Homo sapiens: one gene and its partners. The protein of the gene in region 5 interacts with the protein of the main gene of each other region in a pairwise test. Each region holds a gene or a part of one and is shown on either strand. Other genes may lie near its edges. The genes, in order: SLC7A8, VMA21, GDAP1, SLC10A1, ABHD16A, TMEM237 and STMN4.

Region 1 (3,433 bases), on a different chromosome or scaffold from region 5:
AGTGGGGATGCCCCTGTGTGGGCAGAAGGTAGGCAAGGATGAAGGAGCTGGGGCTTGGTGGTCCCTGGGTTATCCCAGGCTGACCTGCTTTTCTCCCTGACAGGCTGTTCTTCGCTGGAGCCCGAGAGGGCCACCTTCCCAGTGTGTTGGCCATGATCCACGTGAAGCGCTGCACCCCAATCCCAGCCCTGCTCTTCACAGTAAGGGCCCTTCCTGCTGTAACTCTCCACACACCTCCCTCTCTTTGTGCCTAGTCTAAGCTGGGAGTTCATGCTTTTCACACACACCCCTGTTACCCTTGCAGTCTGCTGCTAGGTCTCACTGGATCTTAGAGGATCTGGCAAATGATACCCATCATCTTTGTTAATATCAAGAGATATAGCAAGGAAAGATCCTGAGTCTTGAAATACCTAAGGCTCTCAGGCTGACTTATTTCCGTTCTCCCATCCTTTTGGGTCAGACTGAACTGACTGTCTCAGGATTCTACAGCCTCAAAAAAAATATATCTCCCTTGGCTCTCCTCGCACCTGTTACCACAGGGTTGCAGCACTGGCCTCTGCTCCTGGCTGGTTGGTCCCTGCAAACACCCACTTCCCCCATCAAGCTTCAGGGCAGCCTGCCAGTCTCTTGGGAAACATCATTGAAATGAAGTTAGTGTTAACAGTACACCAAATACGAAAAATAATAGAGGAAGACTGATAAACTGGAAACTGTGCAAAGGAAACTTGGGACAGGAAAGAGATGGGAGTAAAATATCCCCAGAGTAGAATCATTTTGAGAGAGCTATAGGAAGGAACAAAGACTTGTCCCCATTGAGTCTTTTGAGTTATTTTTATTTTCCTTCTGGATCCTGAATAAAACACTAAAAATGACTTTGGTCCACTGGTGAAGCAGTTAGCAATCAGAATAACAGAGCTCTTGGGAGCCAAGAGCATTTTACAGCATTGCTGTACAATTTCAGAATGTTCAGATGCAGGATGAAGGTCACCTTGACTGGTTGGTTGTCGAAGGTGGCTGGAGAAGACAGTACTCCCAGTGGGCCACACACATTTTTTTGTTTTGTTTTGTTTTGTTTTTTCCAGTTAGAGCTATTGGTGCAGTAGTGTGACTAAAAGGCAGATGTAGCAAGAACCATTAAAATCTTCTCGATTATTTTAACCATCGGATCTCACAAGAGAACAGAACCTTTTGTTGACCTTCACAAGTTATCAGAGGGGAGGAGCATGGTTCCAAGAGAGCCACAGAGATGATTTTGAAGTTGGAAAGTAGACTCTGTCAAGAAAACCTCATAGGGATGTTATGAGGGTTAAGTGAGTTAATCTTTGTCAAATGCTAAACATAGAGACCTGGCACACAGTAAGTGCTATGTAACCAGTTTTGAAATTAATAAAGAAAAGGAAGGAAGAAAAATAGATGACTCAGCCAGGAGAAAAGGATGAGGGCAGGAATACAGCCTTAATCTGTTGTTAACAATCTTCCCTAAGGGATTTTAAAAAAATGAATTTAGCTTGAGCTATAACCAACAGAGGCATACAAATGAGACCGGGGCTGACACAGAGCCAGGTAATACCAGTGTGGCCAGTCTAGCTGCTTATGTCCAGTATCCATTCTAATTGGCTAGTGCCCGTGCCATACGAGTGGTTAAATATTTTGATCATCACCCCTGTAATAAGAAAGGATTTCCTAGCAATAAAGATGTTGTAACATATTGGGTTACTAGGGGAGGTTCTAAAGTCTCCATTTCGAGACATCCATTATACGATGGCATCATCTGCCTGGAGGCTGGGGGACAGCCCCTAATCTGTAATACCAGTCTCTGAATATCTTTCGGATCACTGATGAGCTCCTCCCACTTTCCCAGTGCATCTCCACCCTGCTGATGCTGGTCACCAGCGACATGTACACACTCATCAACTATGTGGGCTTCATCAACTACCTCTTCTATGGGGTCACGGTTGCTGGACAGATAGTCCTTCGCTGGAAGAAGCCTGATATCCCCCGCCCCATCAAGGTGAGAGAAACTCCCTTTGGGGTCCCCTCCCCTTCCTCTATGGTTCTAGCTGCAGTTCAGATTTTTAAATCACCTCTGTTCTTAGCTGCTGACCACACGTCATCATCTCTGATGGTAGCAGACCCTTTGGAAAGCAAGGGCCATTTGTGAATGGGACCACTATTTCCATTCTCCACTGGGGATGAGATCGGAGCAGACTGCAGCTGGGGAATAAGTCAGATCAAATGTGACTTTCATCATGACATTCCTTTGTTTCCTACCAGTCTAAGCCTTAAACTCCAGCTGACTTTTCAAGGTTCTCTTATCTCCCCAACACTTCCTCCTTGTCCCTCCAGATAGCTGGGTTCACTATGTGCTATGTCTCCATCCCAGAATGACTTCCTCCTCCCATCTGCCCATCTACATTTTAACCATTTTCCAAATGCGCCTCAAGTACCTCCTCTTTCTTGAAGTCTTCCAGTCTACTGCAACCTCCCATGATCCTCCCTTTATAAACTCCCACAGTCCTACACATATAGGGTGCTCAGTGAACCTAATATTGCTACAAGATATAACTCTGTGATAGGAATTAAAGGGATTGCTCAGAACAGGACATGCTAGAGCATTATGAGTTCTCCTACGAATTAGAAGAATAGAGTGTACTCCAGAGCTATTTGAACAATCCTATTCTAGAAACAGTGACTAGATGCTTCTAGAAGATCCTTCCAGCTGAAAAATCAAAGGCTCTCCAAATCTCTCAGTTCCTCACTGGCATTTCCACCGCCATTTTCTACTCTCACACTTAGAAAATCTGCTAGAGGGAAGAGGAGGTAGAATAACCCCATGTCCCCACCACACACATCCCTTCTGAGCGAGGAAGACAAGGAAGAGAAAGGCAGCCGAATCAGGACTGCCCCTGGAGCCCTGAAGAGGATACTCTCAGGAACTCCCCACATGTGGCCCATAAGGAGCTGACATTTGCCATATTGTGCCCACATAAGGGCCCTGCACAGAAGTGGGCAAGGACCAGGGAGCCTGAGTGACTCGAATCGTCTCCTGCCTGCACCTTGTGCATTGCCACACCTCCCCTCCACCCTAGGACCTCAGCAGACACACCCATGTGCCAGCAAGCTTCTCCATCCCTGTGGGCTTCTCTGGCTGCCACGGGCACATGGCATGCATGATGAGGCCTTGTCTAACCACACCCAAGAGCGAGGACATGGGCAAGGAGGATCGTTTCCTCCCTAACTCCTCCCCATCCTCTTCCTGTCTGACCGACCATGTTCATCAACATTTGTTTATATAGCCCCTGCCCTACCAGGGGTGAGTGTGGGACCACAGAGCCGAGGGAAGCCCAGCCTTTGCCCTTGAGGATGTGTCTCTGTGGGTGAAGAAGAGAGAGAATGCCCCAGTCCCTAGTCCTGGGGGCCACGTGGCCTACAC
Region 2 (2,659 bases), on a different chromosome or scaffold from region 5:
TGTTAATACTAAGACGTCTCAAATGTGTTTGGGAAGGGGATATTAACATTTATTAGTAAGAATTAGCTGGAGTCCTCAGAAGCACAGGAAGGAGCTGGAGTGCAATCAACGGGTGATTAGAGGACAGAGGACACAGGACATTGGTCATGAGGGGGTGGCATGTGGACGTCGTCAGGAATTATCTATTTCCACATTTCTCAACTCTCCTTTAGGGGCATTTGAAGCCCACCCCAGACGAAGTATAACCAGCCCTTTACAGCTCAACACCCCTCCCCCACACTCCCAATCAGTTTGAGCATTTCTGGTTGACATTTACTGCATAAAAACTTATCCTTGACAGCTCTCTATATAATCTACATAGCACAAACAGAGGCCAACGAACAAATTTTTTAAAGTGAGCTCTGTACATATTCTACATGTTATAAAATGAGAAGCAGGCAAACAAATTTTTAAAAACACAGCGGTTAATAAAACATTAATTGAATCAGGACACAGCAAAGTAGCACTACAAACACTTTTTTTAATGACATCAGATGGTACATTTATACAAATTACAAGCTACAATATAGTGAATACAAAATCCATCCAGAAAACGGTTAGAAAAGCATCACTTAACAGAAGTAAATCGGATTCAAGTAGCTAAAGAACTCAAGCCCCCCATTTTGATGATTATACACGGCTTGAAATGCAGCACATCCAAATCCTCCCCCTAGTCAGGGCACTATTCAATACTACAGCATATTCAATGACTCTAGTGATGTAAAGATTCTAACACTTTTAGCATCGACGTCAAGAGACATCTCGTAACAGGTTCACTATGCAAAACTCAAATGAGAATGTGTGAACGTTCTTTGCAAACTGTAAGGTGCTGTGCAGATGTTGTTAGCTATTGCTATTATTACTGTTCAGTGAGATTACACTGAACGTGGGGAAAAGGAAGACTACTCTGTATAACTGACAAATATGACTTACAGAACATCTTAAAAGGAATGCAGATATTACTTTCAAATACACATAGCAACAACACAGGCAAGGAAAGTGTGGCCAGGAGTGATGTCGAGGAATTCCTATTTTAAGGAATATATAAAGGATTAAGCTATTCATAGATTATGTGTAATATTTATCATTAGATTCCCAAAGTCCCTGAAAATAATTTATTTTTAAGGTGACCCTTTCCCCCTGAAAAGGGAAAAAGAAATCTTGTCAGGTTACTAATGTGCTGCTTCAGCCAGCTCTTGTAAAAATTATCTTAAACATAGGAGTACAGTCTGAATTAATAGTTATACTAATCTGGTGGGTGACACAGAGTGCTTGACAGCAGAGAAACCTGCCACTGACCTCAGACAAGTGACAAATTCTGTGTCAGAGTTGAACCATAAGTTTACAACTTCACTTGGGCATAAATTAAACAATAAACATGAACTTGTCTAGAGATAAGAAATACACACTAGGTACATCTAAAATCGGATTTAAATCCTTTTTATGTACTTTCGGGTTTCATCTTTCTTTGTATATACCCTACTTGTTTAACTGATTTTAGTGGTCTCCTTGGGTATTCTAACTGTATACATAAAATTGACATGAAAATGGAAAACAAACGCCAAACAAGTCAATTGGTTGTTTCTTTTGGCAAAGCTGATGACATTTTCATGATGAAAATGTTCCAATTATTAGGCCAGGCACGGTGGCTGATACCTGTAATCCCAGCACTTTGGGAGGCGGAGGCGGGTGGATCACCTGAGGTCAGGAGTTCGAGACTAGCCTGGCTAACATGGTGAAACCCCGTCTCTACTAAAAATACAAAAATTAGCCGGGTGTGGTGGCACGCACCTGTCATCTGAGGTACTCAGGGGGCTGAGGCAGGAGAACTGCTTGAACCCGGGAGGCGGAGGTTGCAGCGAGCCGAGATTGCGCCCTTGCACTCCAGCCTGGGCAAGAAGGGCAAAACTCCGTCTCGAAAAAAAAAAAAAGAAAAAAGAAAACAAAATGTTCTAATTATTACAATGTATTTCTGTTAGATTTCCATGAAACATGGGGATTTTTAATGGCAGGTTTAAATTTTTTTTCACTAACAACCCCAAACCAAATTCTACTGTTATATGTACAATGGTATCCATTTGAAGAACTAATGACATCAGATACATTCTACAGCAGACTTTTCATTTCTCAACACAAATGAGAAAAAGGACTACATTCTCCAGGGCCAAACAGGAGGTGAGGAAGGTAATGTGTTACCGTAAATAGGGTTAAATCAGTAGTTTGGACTGACACTTCAAGTTATATCTCCTAACTGAGGTTATTCTTACAATCAGTTTTCAAACAATAGGGAACATATTTCTACCTTAAAACATGTATAAGGGCTCAACTGTAGCTTTCCTTTCTATACATCTTGAAGTATATACATTGTGTAAAAGGAAACTAGTGAGACATTTTGAAAAATAAATCTATTTGCCAAATACCATATGTTATTTAACATAGTTAAAAACAGCAGCAAACTAGTGAGTTAACAGTTAAAACTCTAGGAAAAAACTGCTTTGAAAACAAGCCTATTTTGTTATAAGCCTAAATATCAACCCTAGCATTTGATTTTAACCTTCAAACATTTGGCGCTTTTTCCAAGAGGAAATTACAACTGCCTTTGCATATGCCCCTGGTTTAA
Region 3 (3,500 bases), on a different chromosome or scaffold from region 5:
CTTCTTTTAGTGACCATGAGACATGCTAGGTCTCAAAATGAATTAAAAGAAAGTGTCAGACAGAATTCCAGGTCTTTAAAATGTTTACATACTACGAATCCTTGTAGTTGCATAAGCCGGGATCATGGAGTCCACAGTTAACTCAGGATGTAAAATGCAGCCATGTGTATAGGCATCCATTGGCAAGGAGTCAAGCAGCTCTCGGTAATGTTGTACCCGTGGGTAATACATGCTTTCTTTATCAGGCATTAACCTGGGTGTTCTTTCTAAAATACACACACACAAATATTGAAGAAAAAGTTACACATGAGTTGTTACACTCAAAAGCAAAACAAAAACACTATCCACTCATCATTAACATTTTCAACATATCTGTATATTCAAAAAACACTGTCTCCTCACCTCAGACATTCATTCAAAGTTTGAAATGGCCTGATGCACCAGACAAGATCCCAAACCATAATCACATTGGTATTCTCTCATTTCTTCACCTTGCAAACTGCACTCAGCCCTCAAGGCCCAGTTATTTATGCCATTTATTCCATGAAGCATTCCCTAACCTCCTACAACTGCCAACATCTGACTGGCTCACATGTGCCTTCTTCTATACATCCATAACACATTACACACACTCTGTTACAGCCCTTATCACACTGTAATTCATTGCATCTTTTTTCCCCATGACTGTCTTCAGGGAAAGGAACCTGCAATCCAGAGTCTAGCACAGTTCTCCACACACTTGAGGCCCTCAATAAAGTTTGGTTAATTGAATGAGGGCTCATTATGGAAAGATAATCAGGGGCTACTCTTTTCTAGGTGCCAACCAACATCAAGAGTGACCCTACTGACACATGTGAATGTGAATGACAATCTATATGGAACAGGAAAGGCCTTTGCTCAAATATCGCAGGTGCACTTTCCCCAGGAATTTCTAACAATTATCTCTGGAAAGTGGGTTCTACATACATCCTTATTTGCTAGTTAAAATCCAAACTGTAGAGTCCTTGAGGGCAGGGACCATGTACTGCTCTCTGTTAAATCCCCAGTGCCTAGTATAATGTTTGACATGTAGTAGGTGTTTAATAAATTACAATGAATACATTCCAAAATTTCCAATTATTATATAGATTACTTGAGCTGGAGAAGTGCTGCAGGAGTTAACATGTACACTCAGATACAAGGGCTGAAAATTTCTCCCAAGATCCCACAGCTAATTAGAGGCAGAGCTAGAACTAAAGTCATCTGATTCCTAATGTAATGTTCTCTTTGATTATACCATCATAACATTTTCAAAGGATTTTCATTTCATAGACTATCGAAAAAGAATAAAAGTGAAGGATGCAACCCAAAGGTCAGGGCTATGTCCCTTCAGAATCTCTTCCTATCTCTGGCTGTCAAACTGTCCCTAAAAAATGTCAGGTCTAATAACTATCACAATTTCAAAATATTAAGATATCTGCAATAACTTAACCATGAACATATCTGTGAGTTCTATTGGTTATCAAAGCCAGAAGCACTCCTGATATTGCCATGGATTGTGCCTACATTGCTAATGGAAGGAAATAATTCCTTTAAATAGAGATACAATTATTCCCTATCCAAGATCTCAAATCTCCTGAATTCTATTCATAAACCCCTAAGCGCAACAGTTCTCACACTATGGTCTGAGGATCCCTGGGTTTTCCTAAAACATGTTTGGGGGATCTACAAAGATATTTTTATAGAAATACTAAGACGTTAATTACTTTTTCACTCTTATTCTCTCTCAAGTGTACAGTAGAAGTTTCCAGAGGCTACAGGAAACATGACTCTATCACTCTGACAGCTAGTGGGATTGTGCTTAACCAGGCTAATATTTTAAGTTTTCTCAGTTTTGCTTTCTAAATGGTAAATATTGATAGCTATGATCCACATAAACAAATGCTCTCTGGTATCCTCAAAGACAAAGGGGTATAGAGACCAAAAAGTTTAAGAACTAATGCTTTAGGGGTCCAAGAACCTCAGGCTAATAACCCTAAATAGTACATTTTCAAATGCTTCCCAAAAGGTCCAAGTAATGGCTAGTGGCTCTGGCTGCTTTCTGGTACTGGGCCCTGGGGCTTCTCTCCAGAAGAGCATACCATTTCCTTCCTAGGAAAGTGAATGAGAGCAGGAAAAACAATGTCTAATTGCTTTCTGGGGAAGATCCATCAGGCCAAGCCCAAATTCTTCAAGGAGGACAAATGTTTAAATCCATGAAAATAATTTTCTTCTACTCAGTGTGCCGTTACTGTCTAACCATTTCCTGAAGCACTCTGTCAGAGCATGAGATACCCACTGAACCCAAGTTATCTCCCCATCTCTCTTTCTTTGTGCGCATCAAGCATGCCCTCTCCAGTATCACAGGGGCACTGCGCTGCCATCCTCACACTGAAGCACAACAGTATCTGCTGCTTCTGATAAAAGAGTTTTTCAAAGGAAAACTGGGAATTTCCTTTGAATTATAGAGGAGATCTTCCCTCTCAATCCCATCCTATTTTATTTTCCAGTTCTTCCGTAGAGTACCTTTATCAAAATACCAAAAGCAAGAATTTTTTTCTCAGTAATGTACCTCAATCAGGAGTGGGAAAGCAACATAAGGCATAGCGGGGCAGGACAGAGAATTAGGGAGTTTTAAGAAGCAGGCAATGAGAGGAGGTCCCAGCATTGGGGAGTGGGATTGCAACAGTGGAAATGAGGCTTGGTATTAAGCTAGAAGAACAAATAAGTTGGCACAAGATCCGACTTGCCGGAAGAACTGAGTAGGGGAAAAGTTTTATATTACACATAAATTTAGGCAGCAAATTATAAACCAGCAGATAGACATAAAGCAGAAAGATTTGATAAACAGCAGAGGAAACCAAAAGAAGCAAAAAATAAAATCAGAAAGAAACAATAAAAGCATTCTGCAGCCATGTAATGGAGACAAATGGGCCTCTACATTCTCAAGTCCCTGTAATGCTGAGTAAAATAACAATGGCTCTGAGCCATTTTTTTAAATTACATTTGGTTTTCCCAAGAGTAAAACATAAAAAGAAATTAGGGGCTTAAAGGCATAAGTTTTCATTATTTTACAAAATTCACTACTCTGGTTACCCATCTTTCCTAGTAAAGGCAGATAAAGGAGGCATTATTATGCCTTGTTTTCAAGAAAGACTCCCCTAGGTCTACTTGTACAACTTTCAAGTCTCCCTTACTACTAGCTCAATGGAAACAGATTAGATTTCATTCCTCACTCTAGCCCTTTGCTGTTTATTTTACTTAGACTGTATAGTGATTGCATCAGTATATAATATGCATAATACAGCTGAATAATATTGTACCCTTCAACTAGTCACACACTAGGCTATTTTTAAAAAATTCAATAATAGGCTGGGCACGGTGGCTCATGCCTGTAATCCCAGCACTTTGGGAGGCCAAGGCAGGCAGATCACGAGGTCAGGAGATCGAGAGACCATCCCGGCCAACATGGTGAAACCCCG
Region 4 (3,500 bases), on a different chromosome or scaffold from region 5:
TAATGACTATCTTTGCTTTATTCCTCTTGTTAAAGAAAATCCCTCTATTTACCATTAAGTTTAACGTTTAATATACTTTTTCTAATAGATTTCCTTTCAAGTTAAGGAATTTTCATTCCGTTGCTAGTGTACTAAATTTTTATTATGTAAGAACATTAAATTTTGTTGACTTTTCTATAGCTACAAAATTGTACCATTTCTTTAATAATATAGTAATATGTATTAATAGATTATCTAATGTTAAATCATTCTTACTCATCTTGTTCATTGTATTTTTTAAAACACTTATTTGCTAATATTTTATTATTTTTGTTTCTATGTTCATAAATAAGAGTGGTCCCCAATTTTCTTTTCTCGTAATATCATTCTCCAGCTTTCGTTCCAAGATCATATTAACTTTATACAATAAATTAGGGCATGTTTCCCCTTTTTATATTATCTGGACAGATTTGCATAATATTGCAACAATCTGCACTTTGCATGTTTAGTAGAACACTACCGTAAGACAGTATAAATCATGTAGGGTTCTAGAAGATAGGTTTTGAACTGCTTATTAAATGTCTTAAATGATTCTAAGTTGAATCAGGTTTTCGGCTTCATATTGACTTGGTTTTGTAGGTTATATTTCCCATGAAATTGTCCATTTAAGTTAAAAATGAAAGTATGAAAATGTCCTTAATGACTTTTTAAAATCTTCATTTTCTCTGTAGTTATGTTCCCTTTTTCACACTAACCTCATCAATTTGTGCCATCTCTCTTTTCCCTGGTCTGCCTTGCCAGAGGTGCCTATTTAATTGGCCTTTAAAAAAAAAAAGAAAAAAAAAAAACCCTATTTTTGGTTTTACTGATTCTAACAATTTACAAAACTTAAAAAATTTCTTCCTTTTCTTTTTATTGGGTTTTTCTCATTCTAACCTCTTAAGGTGCTTAACTCATTAATTTTTAATCTTCTTTTTCAATATAAATATGTTAGGCTATAAATTGCCCTTTAATAATTGCTTTATTTGCTCCCTGCATGGTTTTTAATTACTATTTATTGAGATATAATTCACATACCATAAAATCCATTCTTTAAATTGTACGATGCCTTGGTTTTTAGCATAATTCCAAGCCTGTGAACCTATCACCATTATCTAATTTCAGAACATTTTCAATACCCCAAAAAGGAACTCCATCCCATTTAGCAGGAGTCCCCATTTCTCTCTCCTGCTCCAACCCTTGACAACCACTAATCTTTCTGTCTCTATGGATTTCACATAAATGGAAGCATTCAATATGTGACCTTTTGTATCTATACTTCTTTCACTTAGCATATTTTCAAGGTTCATTCATGTGATAGCATGTCACAATACTTCATTTGTTTTTGTAATTGAATAATATCCCATTGTATGGATATAATACATTTTGCTCATCCATTCATTCAGCTGATGGACACATGGGTTGTTTCTACTTGTTCCCTAGTATGAATAATGTCTATGGAAGCTCACAGGCAAGTTTTTGTGTGAACATGCTTTCTGTTCCCTTGGGATATATACCTAAGAGTAGAATTGCTGGGTTATATGGTGACTCTGTGTTTAAATTTTCTAGAAACTGCCAAACTATTTTCCAAAGCACCATTTTACTTCCCACCACCAGTGTATGAGGATTCCTAATTTTCCATATACCCTCCAACACTTGTTATTGTCCAGCTTTTTAATTATAGCCATGCTAGTAGATATAAAGTGGTATCTCAAAGTGGTTTTGATTTGCATTTTCCTAATAAGTAATGATGTTGAGCATCTTTTCATGTGCTCATTAGCCATTTGTATATCTTCTTTGGGAAAATATCTCATTCAAATCCTTGGCCCATTTTTTACTTGTTTTTTATTATTGCATTATAAGAGTTCTTCATATATTGGCCGGGCGCGGTGGCTCACGCCTGTAATCCCAGCACTTTGGGAGGCCCAGGCGGGTGGATCACGAGGTCAGGAGATCGAGACTATCCTGGCTAACACGGTGAAACCCCATCTCTACTAAAAATACAAAAAAAATTAGCCGGGCGTGGTGGCAGGCGCCTGTAGTCCCAGCTACTCGGGAGGCTGAGACAGAAGAATAGCGTGAACCCAGGAGGCGGAGCTTGCAGTGAGCCGAGACTGCGCCACTGCACTCCAGCCTGGGCGACAGAGCAAGACTCCATCTCAAAAAAAAAAAAAAAGAGTTCTTCATATATATTCTGAATATTAGACCCTTATCAGATATATGACTTGCAAATATTTCCTCCCATTCTCTTGTTGGCTTTTCACTTTCTTGATGGTGTCCTTTGAATCACAAGTTTTTAATATTAATGAAGTCTGACTTGCCTTTTTCTTTGGCTGTTCGTGCTTTAGATGTCTAAGAAACCATTGCCTAATCCAAAGTCCCCTCTCCATGTTTTTTAAATATGTATTTTATTATTTTTATATTCTAAATACTGTTTCCACCATGATTTCATATTTGATGATATAATTAGAAAGTTCCCCTCCCCTCATCCCATGATCCTTTTATTGGTTGCTCAGTTTCAATGCTCCTCCCATCCCAGGTCTAATACCTCAATTCTGGTCCCTTCCTTGGGCATTAAAGCCTCCACAGTGCCAAGACTAACACCCCACTCCCCTCCAGAACCCCTCTATGAAGCTTCAGCTTGAGTTCCCCCACTACTTTGCATTTGTTTCTTGTCCGTGGGCACCTTTTTTTTTAGTGGAGTGGCGCTAACATAGCTCACTGTAACCTCAACCTTCTGGGCTCAAGCCATCCTCCTGCCTCAGCCTCCCAAGTAGCTGGGACTCCTGGTGCACACCACCACACCTGGCTAATTTTTGTGTGTGGTTTTTGGTTTGTTTGTTCATTTGTTTGTGTGTAGAGACAGGGGTCTTACTTTGTTGCCCAGGCTGGTCTCAAACTCCTGGCTTCAAGCAATCCTCCCTCCTCGGCCTCCCTAAATGCTGGAATTATAGGCATGAGCCACTATGCCACACTTAAATTGAGTGTTAATTTCTTACAAGCTCAAGTGTGTATTTAAGTGTTCACGGGGGTGGGGGAGTTCCTATTACCTAGTTCACAATTTTCTTTGAGGGACTCTTCTCACCTCTAACAGCTCTTATCCTTATGACATGCCTACCTATTGTTCTTGATGGCTACGCTCTGGAACCTTTGATATAGGCTGCTCTTCATGCATATTTAAGCCATATTCCATCTTTATAGAAATAATGAAAGAAGTGTAGATGGAGGGTAGGGCTGTGGGGAGGAGGAGGGACACACTGAGTGTGGTTTTCCTAAGATCTTGCCAAGCCCTCACCTCCCAACCATCTTCCCACTGGAATAAAAGTCAGAGCCATATATTGTTAATGTAAATGTCCATAAATCTAAGGAGATGCCCTATCAGCTTCCTTCTCAGTTGACCTTTCTGGAGGGCCTCTCCCTAGACAGGGTCCTGGGACTAACATATATAAGATTCCAAATGGAAAAGGAAATTGGACAAGTAG
Region 5 (3,500 bases):
CCAGTGTGGTGGGTGGTAAAACACACCTCCTCTTCCTGCAGAAGCCAGTGTCTGGTGCTCTGAGGGACAACTGAGAAAGCTGCTATTGGGTGCCTGTGTGGCACTTTTCCTAGGGCCTCTCACCTTGTTTTCTGAAGACTGGTTCCGATGTGTTGCTTCCAAGATGGTGATGAACTGCCGGTACTGGGGGTTGGTCCAGCGGCCAATGCCTGGTAGAAAAAGGACAGGAAACAGTGCTAGGAAAACTGGGAAGCAGAAAGCCTAGGTTTTAGGAAAAGAATTGGAGATGGGCTAGAAGAAGGCCCTGTAAGAAAAAGTGAAAGAAAAAGGAACTGAGGGCATAGGATGCGGAGAAATAGATGTGAGCCAACCCCCTTCCTCCAAATCCAGCAACTGGCTACAGGACGCTTCTTCTCCCTAGCTTCTGCAGTTTGTGTCTTTATAGACAATCCTTAACCTACCATCTTCCAGAATGTTCCTCTTCCTCAGTCTTTAAACACTGTCATATAACCTATTAAATGACACTATTAAACACTATCATATAATACTATTCTCCCTTGCGAATATCAAATTTCTCTATTTTTCACTGCCATTCTTCTCCAATGTTTGCTTTCTGCCTCTTTTCTGTATATTCTAGCCCCTTGCCATCTGGCTTCAGAGTCTCCGACTCCTGCCCATAATTACTTCCTCACTGAATTCCTGACTCTTCTATCCTCATTCTCTTCAACTGTACTACTCAGCATTCTCCCTGTCCCTCAAGATTCTTCCTGCCTCTGCTTCCTGGGCCCATCCTTGACTCCTTCCAGTTCCTGAACAGTTCCTCTCCTGCCTCCTTTCTGCTTTCCTTTCTGAAGCAGAAGCAACTCTCAGTGCTGACTCTCTCTCCTCTCTCTTTTCACTTACACAGTCAGTGATTGCATCCACTCTCCTTTCACTGCTGAGCCACCTCAAACCCTAACTTCTCTCCTCACTGACTTGGCAGGTGTCGTGTGTCAGACAGGCACCGTACTACACACGGGAGACTCAGCAGGAAATGAGATACACAGCTCCTGGCTCTCAGAGAGCTGGCATTCTGGTTGGGGTTAGGTACAGCCAGGAGAAGACAATAAACAACATTTCAGAGAGGGATAAGTGCTACAGAGAAAATACAACAAGAATGAACCAGAACTTTATGTGTCATCAATGGTATTCCCCCAAAACGATATGATGAGAGAATGATGTGTGCTGCAGAATGATTTGTACAACATTTATGCCAAAAATGTAAAATGTGCAAAATAATACATACTGCTTATAGATACCATATTTCATAGATTCTAAAATGTATATTTTTTAACCCTTGAAAACTCTGAAATTAGAATTCATTTTACAATTGATGGCAGCTTAGACTTGAGGAACTGAGGTATATGTTTCATAAAAGTATGTGCCAGAAAAAAAAAAAACCCACACCAAATGACAATTATTACTTCTGAGGAAAGAGGAAGATGGGACTGAAAGGATTCCAATGGGAACTCCAACCCTAACTGTGGTGCTTTAGTATTTTGTTGACAGAAAGCATTTAAAGCAAATATCACAAAACTATATATAAAAAAAAAATCACAAAACTATACATCAAAAAATTTAAAAAGGCTTTTATATTTTGTTCTCTGGACTTTTCTGTATTTTTTCTTTTTTCTTTTTTTTGAGACAGTTTTGCTCTTGTTGCCCAGGCGGGAGTGCAATGATGTGCTCTCGGCTCACTGCAACCTCCGCCTCCCGGGTTCAAGTGATTCTCCTGCCACAGCCTCCCAAATAGCTGGGATTACAAGCGCCCGCCACCATGCACAGCTAATTTTTTCTGTATTTTTTCTAAATTAAAAATAAATAAAATAAAAAACTAAGACAAAACTGAGCAGTGGGAGCTACTTTTAGACAGGGTGGTCAGGGAAGGCCTCTCTGAGGAGAGAGCCCAGCCCTGCAGAGATCAGGGGGCAGAACACCTCAGGCAGAAGGTCCTGGACCCAACTGCGACCATCCAGCCCTGACCCCACCACCCCCATGTTGAAGCATCGCCCATCACCTGGTTGTCATCTTATGTACCCACTAGGGGTAGGTGATCTGTCCTCTTTATTTTTTTAAATTGCGAGATACAACATATGTACATAAAACATATATTCAGTTTAAAAAATACAAAGCAAACATTCATGTGACTATCACCTAGGTCAACAAAGAGAACACAGCCACCTCTCAGCAGGGCTCTCCCCCACTCTGTTCTCCCCCACCCCAGGTAATCACTCTCCTAACTTTTGAGAAAACCATGCCCTTGCTGGGCGCGGTGGCTCAAGCCTGTAATCTCAGCACTTTGGGAGGCCGAGGCGGGTGGATCACGAGGTCAGGAGATTGAGACCATCCTGGCTAACACGGTGAAACCCCATCTCTACTAAAAAATACAAAAAAACCTAGCCGGGTGTGGTGGTGGGCGCCTGTAGTCCCAGCTACTCGGGAGGCTGAAGCAGGAGAATGGCGTGAACCCGGGAGGCGGAGCTTGCAGTGAGCCGAGATCGCGCCACTGCACTCCAGCCTGGGGGACAGAGCGAGACTCCGTCTCAAAAAAAAAAAAAAAAAAAAAGAAAACCATGCCCTTGTTGTCTTCGGTGTTCTACCTCAAACATGCACATCCCTTTTGAATTTTATATAAATGAAAACATACTGCATACATTATTTTGTGGTTAGCTTCTTCTATTTAACACAACATTTGAGAAATTCATCTGCATTGCTTTTGTTTATCTGGAGACAGAGTCTCGCTCTGTCACCCAGACTGGAGTGCAGTGGTGCTATCTTGGCTCACTGCAACCTCTGCCTCCCAGGTTCAAGCAGTTCTCATGCCTTAGCCTCCCAAGCAGTTAAGACTATAGGCATGTGCCACCATGCCCAGTTAATTTTTTGTATTTTATTTTTTCTGAGATGGAGCCTTGCTCTGTTGCCCAGGATGCAGTACAGTAGCGCAATCTTGGCTCACTGCAACCTCTGCCTCTTGGATTCAAGCAATTCTACTGCCTCAGCCTCCCGAATAGCTGGGATTACAGGTGCTCACCACCATACCTGGCTAATTTTTTTTTGTATGTTTAGTAGAGACGGGGTTTCACCATGTTGGACAGACTGGTCTTGAACTCCTGACCTCTGGTGATCTGCCTGCTTCAGCCTACCAAACTGCTAGGATTACAGGCATGAGCCACTGCACCTGGCTTCATCTGCGTTGTTGAGCGTAGCTACAGTTTGTTCATTTGCATTGCTATATAGTGTTCTCTTGCATGGCTATTGCATGGAACTTTTTTTTTTTTTTGAGACGGAGTCTTGCTCTGTTGCCCAGGATGGAGTGCAGTAGCGCAATCTCGTCTCACTGCAACCTTTGCCTCCCAGGTTCAAGCTATTCTCCTGCCTCAGCCTCCTAAGTAGCTGGGATTACAGGCACGTGCCACCATGCCCAGCTAATTTTTGTATTTTTGGTAGAGACGGGGTTTTAC
Region 6 (3,500 bases), on a different chromosome or scaffold from region 5:
GAAGGATCTTTTCTTGGGGTTCCTTAAACATAATTTTTCATCTTGAAGAAAAATAAGCGATGTCAGTGTATTTTCTTCTCAATCCAAAGTGAAGTAACAATTTCAGAAATCAATTATATTTAATAAAAAAAAATGAACTTTCAACTCAGAATAAAGTCTAGAAATCTTTAACATGACCTAGTCTACAAAATTCTAATTTAGAGACTTTAGAAGTATTAAAGTTTATATGCCTATACTATCAAGGTAAGTCAATATTTGAAAACTACTTTAAATTTCTTAGGAAAAGATGTCAGGATGTGTAGCATGGCTTTCTGGGATGACAGGAAAGAAATAGGCTGCTTCATAAATTTCTCTTTAGAACATTCCTGTGAAGAACATCAGTTCAAAAGTCAGCACTGCAATATTGTATGAGCAGGGCTTTAGCCTTTTTACTGTTGATTCAGAGGCTCCTTCTTGTATATCTAGTAATCCACAAATAGACCTCAGGAAACAGGAAAGGTTCCATTTCAATTATCCTCACCAAACCCAGTTCGCAGGTGTTTTGGAGGATGAAAGACAGGGGTGTGACAATTTTCCCTAAGAAAAGACAACTTCTGGGCAGACAATAGAACCACTGGTACCTTTTATGGCCAGTTACTCTAGCAGGGAAATTTCTATGCTAAGTGAAGCAAGAATAAAAATGAGGATTAAGTGATACTGCTTGAAAAAGAACTGCGGTAATTTAAATGACCACGTGGTAGATGAATAAAACCATGTGACTAGAAGTCATAAAACCACAGTTCAAGTCCCAGTTCCACCCTAACCAAACTGTGAGACACTGGGTAAGTCAGCCTCTCTAGACCACAGGTTTCTTATTGGCCAAGAACTGCAAGATCCCTTAAATGGGATCTTCTGAAGTAGGGTTCTAAAACAAGGTACACAAAATCTAAATTGTAAATTTTAAGGACTAACCTTTATGTTTCAGATGAGTTCTTTAGGCAGCATATGCTTAACATATCCATGGTAGTATATAGTCATGATCATGCTTTGAGTAGGTTTTTCTTAAACACTGTGTTATAGACGGAATGCGTCCCCCAAAAATTCATATGTTGAAGCCCTAACCCCCCAGTGAGTGCGAGGTCACTGGGAGGTAATTAGATTTCGATGAAGTCATGAGGATAAAGCTCCCATGATGAGATTATAATCCTTTTAAGAAGAAGAAGACACACCAGAGCTCTCTCTGCCACATGACGACACAGTGGCAGCTGTCGGCAAGCCAGGAAGGGGCCTTCTCCAGTAACCTAATCTGCTGGAACCTTGTCTTGCACTTCCTAGCTTTAGGAACTATGAGAAATAAATGTCCGTGGTTTAAGCCACTTAGTCGGTGGTATTTTGTTATAGCAGCCTGAGCTAAAATACACTGCAAACCTAGTATACATTATACAATGTCACAACTATCTTGCAAAAGAATATACAGCTATAATGTTGTATTTCTTATTTAATATGGTAGTATCATCATGTATTTTCTCTTATTGTCAATTGTAGAATTTATATTATTATCTGTCCCACCACAACTACTACCAATTGCAGCAAACTGGTAAAGTACAAGAAAGAATAAAGAATCAGGCAGGGGTGGGGAAGATCTTTACATTGCCCATAACCCCATAAATCCAGAAACAACCAGCATTAATATTTGAGCCTATTTCCTTCAAGTCTTTTGTCCTATGCATAGATCAAACTGTGTGTGTGTGTGTGCACATGTGTATATGCTCATTTTTTATCAGAATCTTTCCATAAAATGAAAAATTCTCCCTAAACATTATGTTTAATGGTGAAGAACATTATTATATAGATACACCACAACTTACTGACATTATTCCTCTCCTATTTCACATTTAGGTTGTTTCCAGTTTTTCACTCTCATGAATCATAGCATGATGACCAGTTTTGTGTATAAATTGTTGTACACAGTTTTGCTTAATTCCTTAATTCAGATTTCCAGAAGTATAAAGGATATCCTTGGACAATTTTTAAAGAGTTCATATTCTAAAACAAGGCATCTACTTACGGCTTTTTTCCACAAATACTTTGCCTACAGGCTGGCTAATGCCAGTGGGTGCAGTGAATACAGACTGCTGTTCCACAGTAGTTTGCTCATCAGTGATTATGTCTTCATCTTCTACTCCTAGCTCATTGGCATACTGTAATTCTGCTGGCTGGGTTTTCCTGTAATAAGGACGTATGTATGAAAAATAGATGATTATTGAATTTTTTACAGACTTACATAAGGAACTAGCTATAAATATAATGGAAAGGGCCCTGGACTTGGAGTTAAGAAATGTGGTTTTTACTCAAATAAATCGGTTATTAACTATTATGTGCAGCAAGTTACTTACATTTCTGAGGGCTTCAGTTTTCTCATTTGAAAATTGAAGTGACTGAACTAGATCTGTAAGCTTCTTTCCAAATTTAAAACTGTATGATTCTGTATAGATACTGATAAGGTTTGGCTATGTCCCCACCCAAAATCTCATCTTGAATTGTAATAATCCCCACCTGTCAAGGGACTGTTCTGGTGATAGTGAGTTCTCAGGAGATCTGATCGTTTTGTAAGGGGCTTCCCCCTTCACTCAGCTCTAATTCTTCTCCTTCCTGCTGCCCTGTGAAGAAGGGTGTGTTTGCTTCACCTTCCACCATGATAGTAAGTTTCCTGAGGCACCCCCAAGTCATGCTGAACTGTGAGTCAATTAAACCTCTTTCCTTTATAAATTATCCAGTCTCGGGTATGTCTTTATTAGTAGTGTGAGAACGGACTAACACAGACATTGATCACTATTTGTAGGTTCATTTTCAAATACAAATAATAGTGCTATATATATGACTTCCAGTGTTATTTCTTTAAAGTACACTACTCATTTTATCTTAATGCTAAAACCCAGTTTTACTTATTCCTAAAATAATCATAATTTGAATTCTGTTAACATAAGAAAATAAATCACAATAGCCTATTTCATTATCTTTAATTTTTAAATATCCTTAATGTTTAATTTTGCTACTTATATATTCTATTTGTGTTCTTCTTTTTTAGAGATGGCTCTTAAGTTTTTTTATTTAAGTACAATCTTAATTTTTTTTATTTTCTCAGTGGTTTACTCTTCTGAAATTTATCATTCGATTGGTTTAACTGATTTTTTGTAATAATACTTATCCTAGAGGTACACAAATACAAGTATGTAATAAGACTTAATGAGAAGCTACTGCTTCGGAGCTCCAAACAAAGCATCAGGGTAATCCTGGAGAATAGTTAGAAGAATAAATAAATTCCTACTTTGTCTTCCTCCGAGGTTTTTGAATAACTGCCTCCTCAGCTGGCTCCGCATCAATACCATTTTCATTTCGTAATAAAGATGAACTAGATGACTTCTTTTGGGTGGAGGAAGTCTCCAATTCTGAAAACAAAATAAATTTAACTTTTCAAATAACTAAAACATAAAAAGAAAAGTAATGTACAAGACTTGTAT
Region 7 (3,500 bases), on a different chromosome or scaffold from region 5:
TGGGTTTACTCAGGAACACAGGAGGCCCACTGGGCTGCATGCAGGGTGCAGTGGGACAGAATGCTAGAATAGGAACTGGAAAATTGCAGAGACCTCTGGACCAGTGAAGGACTTTGTGCTTTATCTCCCACCCAGTAGGAAGCCACTGACATCTTTTGAATGAGGGGAGAAGAGAACAGTGATGCTGATAATAATAGCAATAATAACAACTACCATTCTTGGGCAGGAAAAGCACGGCTGTTATCTCATTTTTCTATTAGGTTCTTTGAGAATGAGGACATTGAATCTCAGCAGTTAAGTAAGTTATACCGTCGTCACACAGGTAGGTAGGGGCAGAGCTGGGATTTGAGTCCTCATGTGTTTCATTGGAAAGCCTCTCTGTCTTTAGGTTCTGCTGCGAGTGTAAAAAGATTCATCTGGCAACATTCGTTTGGGGAAAAATTAGGAGGGATAGGCTGGAAGCCAAATAGCAGTCTGGGTACAAAGTGTGGGTTGGACCTGCTGGATTGAGTTCCACTCTGAAGTTTTCACATCTCACCCAGCACTATTTTTCCATTTACAAACTGATCCATACATTTCCCCCAGCACCAGCATCTAAGAGTCTGTACAGAAAAGCAAGGAACCAGAGCTTTTTGTTGATGGCTTGAACCATTAGCATAATTGTTAAGAAATAAATTAGTGGGTGATAACCCCCCCCAAGCACAGAGCCAGCCGTAAGGAAACACAGAATGAGTAAGTTTTGATTGGAGGCAGACGTGGCTGAGAGTGAAGTTGTAGGCTGTTGACTGAGGAGGGATCTCACGGTGGGACAGTGGGGAGAAAAAGGTGGTTAAAGTGAAGAGATCAGAGCCCTCGATTTCACCCAGAACATTTGAATGTCAGAGATGGAGAGAACAGGCAATCACAAGCCCATGGTTCTCGACTCAGTGCAGTCTCACTCCCGGGAACTACATGGGACTTTTCAATGGTCATGAAACTGAGGATGCTACAGGCATTTAGTGGGCAGAGGCTGGCGAGTCTAAATGTCTTGCATTGTATACATCAGTCCCACACGATAAACAACTGTCCCTTCCAAAATGCCAATAGCCTCCTACTTGGGGACCAAAGATTCTGAGGTCACGCAGAGAACTCCTGGCAGAGATTGGATGGATTCCAGTGTCAATGCCCTTCTCCTTTATACTTGCTCCTTCTCTGTCCCCAAACACCATCCTGGATGAGAGGGGACAGCCCACATGGTCACCAGAGCAGCTCTGAATGAGAAGATGGATACACAGAAGGGAGACCCCAGCAGGGCACTTTCATGCAACCCACACTTCCAGGCTTTCCGTAATTCAGCTGATGTCCAGGGGGCAAACAGAAAAGCACCAAGTTCTCAGATGACACGTGGCCACCTACTGGGTGTATGCCTGACCTCTTAGTGCCTCTGACTGCCCATACGACAGAATGAACAAGCATTTTATTGGTCACTGTAAGAAATGCCCCAAGAATGCTTGCAGGATGTGTCAAATTCCATCTGGACTATTTTTGAGGGATGAGCAGATAATGCATGTCCCAGTGGCTTGAACAGAGTTGTACCTGGCAAGGGTTTCGGAAGACAAATCTAGAAACTCTGGCCAAGAATCAGGATGAATACCTCATGGTTGTGGGGGCAATGAATTCTGCCTGAGGTCCTCTAACCACAAGCAGTACAGGAAGGTGGTTCTTTAAGTCTGTGCCCTATTGCCAATCTTCTTCAAAATCCAGTTGAGGTCATATATTTACCCAAAATTAGCTGCATAAGCTATCTAAATGCCACATTTATTTGCTTTGGGATGAATCATGTCAGCTCAGAACAGTGGCCCTGGTTATTTCATGCTGATCAAAAGGCTCTGATTGGCAGCCATGTGTCTTCTTTGGGTTTAAAATCAAAAGGAGATAAATTATTTTTTCATAAATGTGGTTTTCATTCTTTCTACAATATTTACTGAGTATTTAATTATGTGCCAAGCCCTCTGCTAGATCCTAAAATAACCACAGGAGTTTTTGTTGGTGGAAAAGTAAAACAGGTCCCTGGATGGGTATCTAGAGCCATTGGAGCCTTTGGAGGCTCTGCAGATGCTCTGCGGGCCTCAGCATGGTCTTCCGCGATAATGTGGACCATGCCATAAAGGGAGAAGGAGTGGGAATTAGAGTGCAGACCAAGAAGGAACCAGCGAGACCTACAGAGGGAAACTGGGCAAAACAGAACAGTGTGTGATTCACTGGGTCTGGGGAAACTGGCATTGTTTAATCACCTCTTAGGCTCTTGCTTCCAACAGCATCTAGAGGAAGAGATGATGGGGACCTGGACAAGGGCAACTCCCAGAGGGTACCCAACAGGCTTAGGCTTCTAGGAAATAAGCACCTATGACAAAAGCAGAACTCTGAAGGCCTGAATCTGAGGAGTCCTTCTTAGCACTAACAGCTATGTTAAGAGGCAAGTCAGAGAAGGAAAATTAAACTGGAAAAGTGACAGCCCCAAATAATCCACAATGATGGGATTTTCTGGGCAATTTTTATTTCCAATTTAATATATGCAGAAGCGGCTGAGTGCGATGGCTCATGCCTGTAATCCCAACACTTTGGGAGGCTGAGGCAGGCAAATCATGAGGTCAGGAGTTCGAGACCAGCCTGGCCAACATGGTGAAACCCCATCTCTACTAAAAATACAAAAATTAGCCCAGCGTGGTGGTGCATGCCTGTAGTCTCAGTCCCAGCTACTCGGGAGGCTGTGGCAGGAGAATCACTTGAACACAGGAAGTGGAGGTTGCAGTGAGCTGAGATCATGCCACTGCACTTCAGCCTGGGTGAAAGAGTGAGACTTCATCTCAAAAAATAAATATATATATATACACGTATATACGTATATATATATACATATAATATTATATATATACGTATATACGTGTATATATATTATATATATACATATGCAGAAGAATCAGCATCACAGAAGTCAAGTTCAGGGGCATGGACTTCCATTCTGGGCTGCTGGAGAGTGTGCAAGGCATGTGACCCAGGAGTTCTGTGAGGTCCTGGGTTAAAAGCACATGAAGCCATCAATATACAGGGCAAGCCCTTTTAATCTTACTCCCAATAACAACAATGTGATTGAATATTGCTTTATGATTACATCTATAGGCATATGTGCATCTTATAAATAATGCTTTAATTACAAACATATTCACATTATATTTTGGAAATTCTATGTAACAGAAAAAAAGAAAATAAATCCTTGTAGTCTTGCTACTTTATGCTATTGGCATTTTCTTCTAGGTTTTTTCCCCTCTGTCTACTATTTTTACATAAGCCAGAAACCAGGGCTTTTACAAAAGCAAGGGAATCTACATTTAAAAAAAATTTCTTTTTTGCCATCTTTTTTTTTCTTTTTTTTTTTATTATTATACTTTAAGTTTTAGGGTACGTGTGCACATTGTGCAGGTTAGTTACATATGTATACATGTGCCATGCTGGTGTGCTGC

What was found.
Region 1: the proteins of ABHD16A (region 5) and SLC7A8 interact in binary tests that used the Homo sapiens proteins (3 or more experiments, as listed by UniProt).
Region 2: the proteins of ABHD16A (region 5) and VMA21 interact in binary tests that used the Homo sapiens proteins (3 or more experiments, as listed by UniProt).
Region 3: the proteins of ABHD16A (region 5) and GDAP1 interact in binary tests that used the Homo sapiens proteins (3 or more experiments, as listed by UniProt).
Region 4: the proteins of ABHD16A (region 5) and SLC10A1 interact in binary tests that used the Homo sapiens proteins (3 or more experiments, as listed by UniProt).
Region 6: the proteins of ABHD16A (region 5) and TMEM237 interact in binary tests that used the Homo sapiens proteins (3 or more experiments, as listed by UniProt).
Region 7: the proteins of ABHD16A (region 5) and STMN4 interact in binary tests that used the Homo sapiens proteins (3 or more experiments, as listed by UniProt).

The regions. Positions count from the first base shown.
Region 1 is NC_000014.9:23,128,228-23,131,660, reverse strand, and holds part of SLC7A8 (large neutral amino acids transporter small subunit 2), read left to right. Parts: intron 1-103; coding exon 104-200; intron 201-1,861; coding exon 1,862-2,011; intron 2,012-3,296; exon of another isoform or gene 3,297-3,433. UniProt on the Homo sapiens protein: Associates with SLC3A2 to form a functional heterodimeric complex that translocates small and large neutral amino acids with broad specificity and a stoichiometry of 1:1.
Region 2 is NC_000023.11:151,407,206-151,409,864, reverse strand, and holds the end of VMA21 (vacuolar ATPase assembly integral membrane protein VMA21), read right to left. Parts: 3' UTR 501-2,659; downstream 1-500. UniProt on the Homo sapiens protein: Required for the assembly of the V0 complex of the vacuolar ATPase (V-ATPase) in the endoplasmic reticulum.
Region 3 is NC_000008.11:74,356,903-74,360,402, reverse strand, and holds part of GDAP1 (ganglioside-induced differentiation-associated protein 1), read right to left. Parts: intron 267-3,500; coding exon 93-266; intron 1-92. UniProt on the Homo sapiens protein: Regulates the mitochondrial network by promoting mitochondrial fission.
Region 4 is NC_000014.9:69,787,242-69,790,741, reverse strand, and holds part of SLC10A1 (hepatic sodium/bile acid cotransporter), read left to right. Parts: intron 1-3,500. UniProt on the Homo sapiens protein: As a major transporter of conjugated bile salts from plasma into the hepatocyte, it plays a key role in the enterohepatic circulation of bile salts necessary for the solubilization and absorption of dietary fat and fat-soluble vitamins.
Region 5 is NC_000006.12:31,696,825-31,700,324, forward strand, and holds part of ABHD16A (phosphatidylserine lipase ABHD16A), read right to left. Parts: intron 210-3,500; coding exon 124-209; intron 1-123. UniProt on the Homo sapiens protein: Phosphatidylserine (PS) lipase that mediates the hydrolysis of phosphatidylserine to generate lysophosphatidylserine (LPS). LPS constitutes a class of signaling lipids that regulates immunological and neurological processes.
Region 6 is NC_000002.12:201,630,004-201,633,503, forward strand, and holds part of TMEM237 (transmembrane protein 237), read right to left. Parts: intron 3,429-3,500; coding exon 3,308-3,428; intron 2,206-3,307; coding exon 2,048-2,205; intron 1-2,047. UniProt on the Homo sapiens protein: Component of the transition zone in primary cilia. Required for ciliogenesis.
Region 7 is NC_000008.11:27,248,405-27,251,904, forward strand, and holds part of STMN4 (stathmin-4), read right to left. Parts: intron 1-3,500. UniProt on the Homo sapiens protein: Exhibits microtubule-destabilizing activity.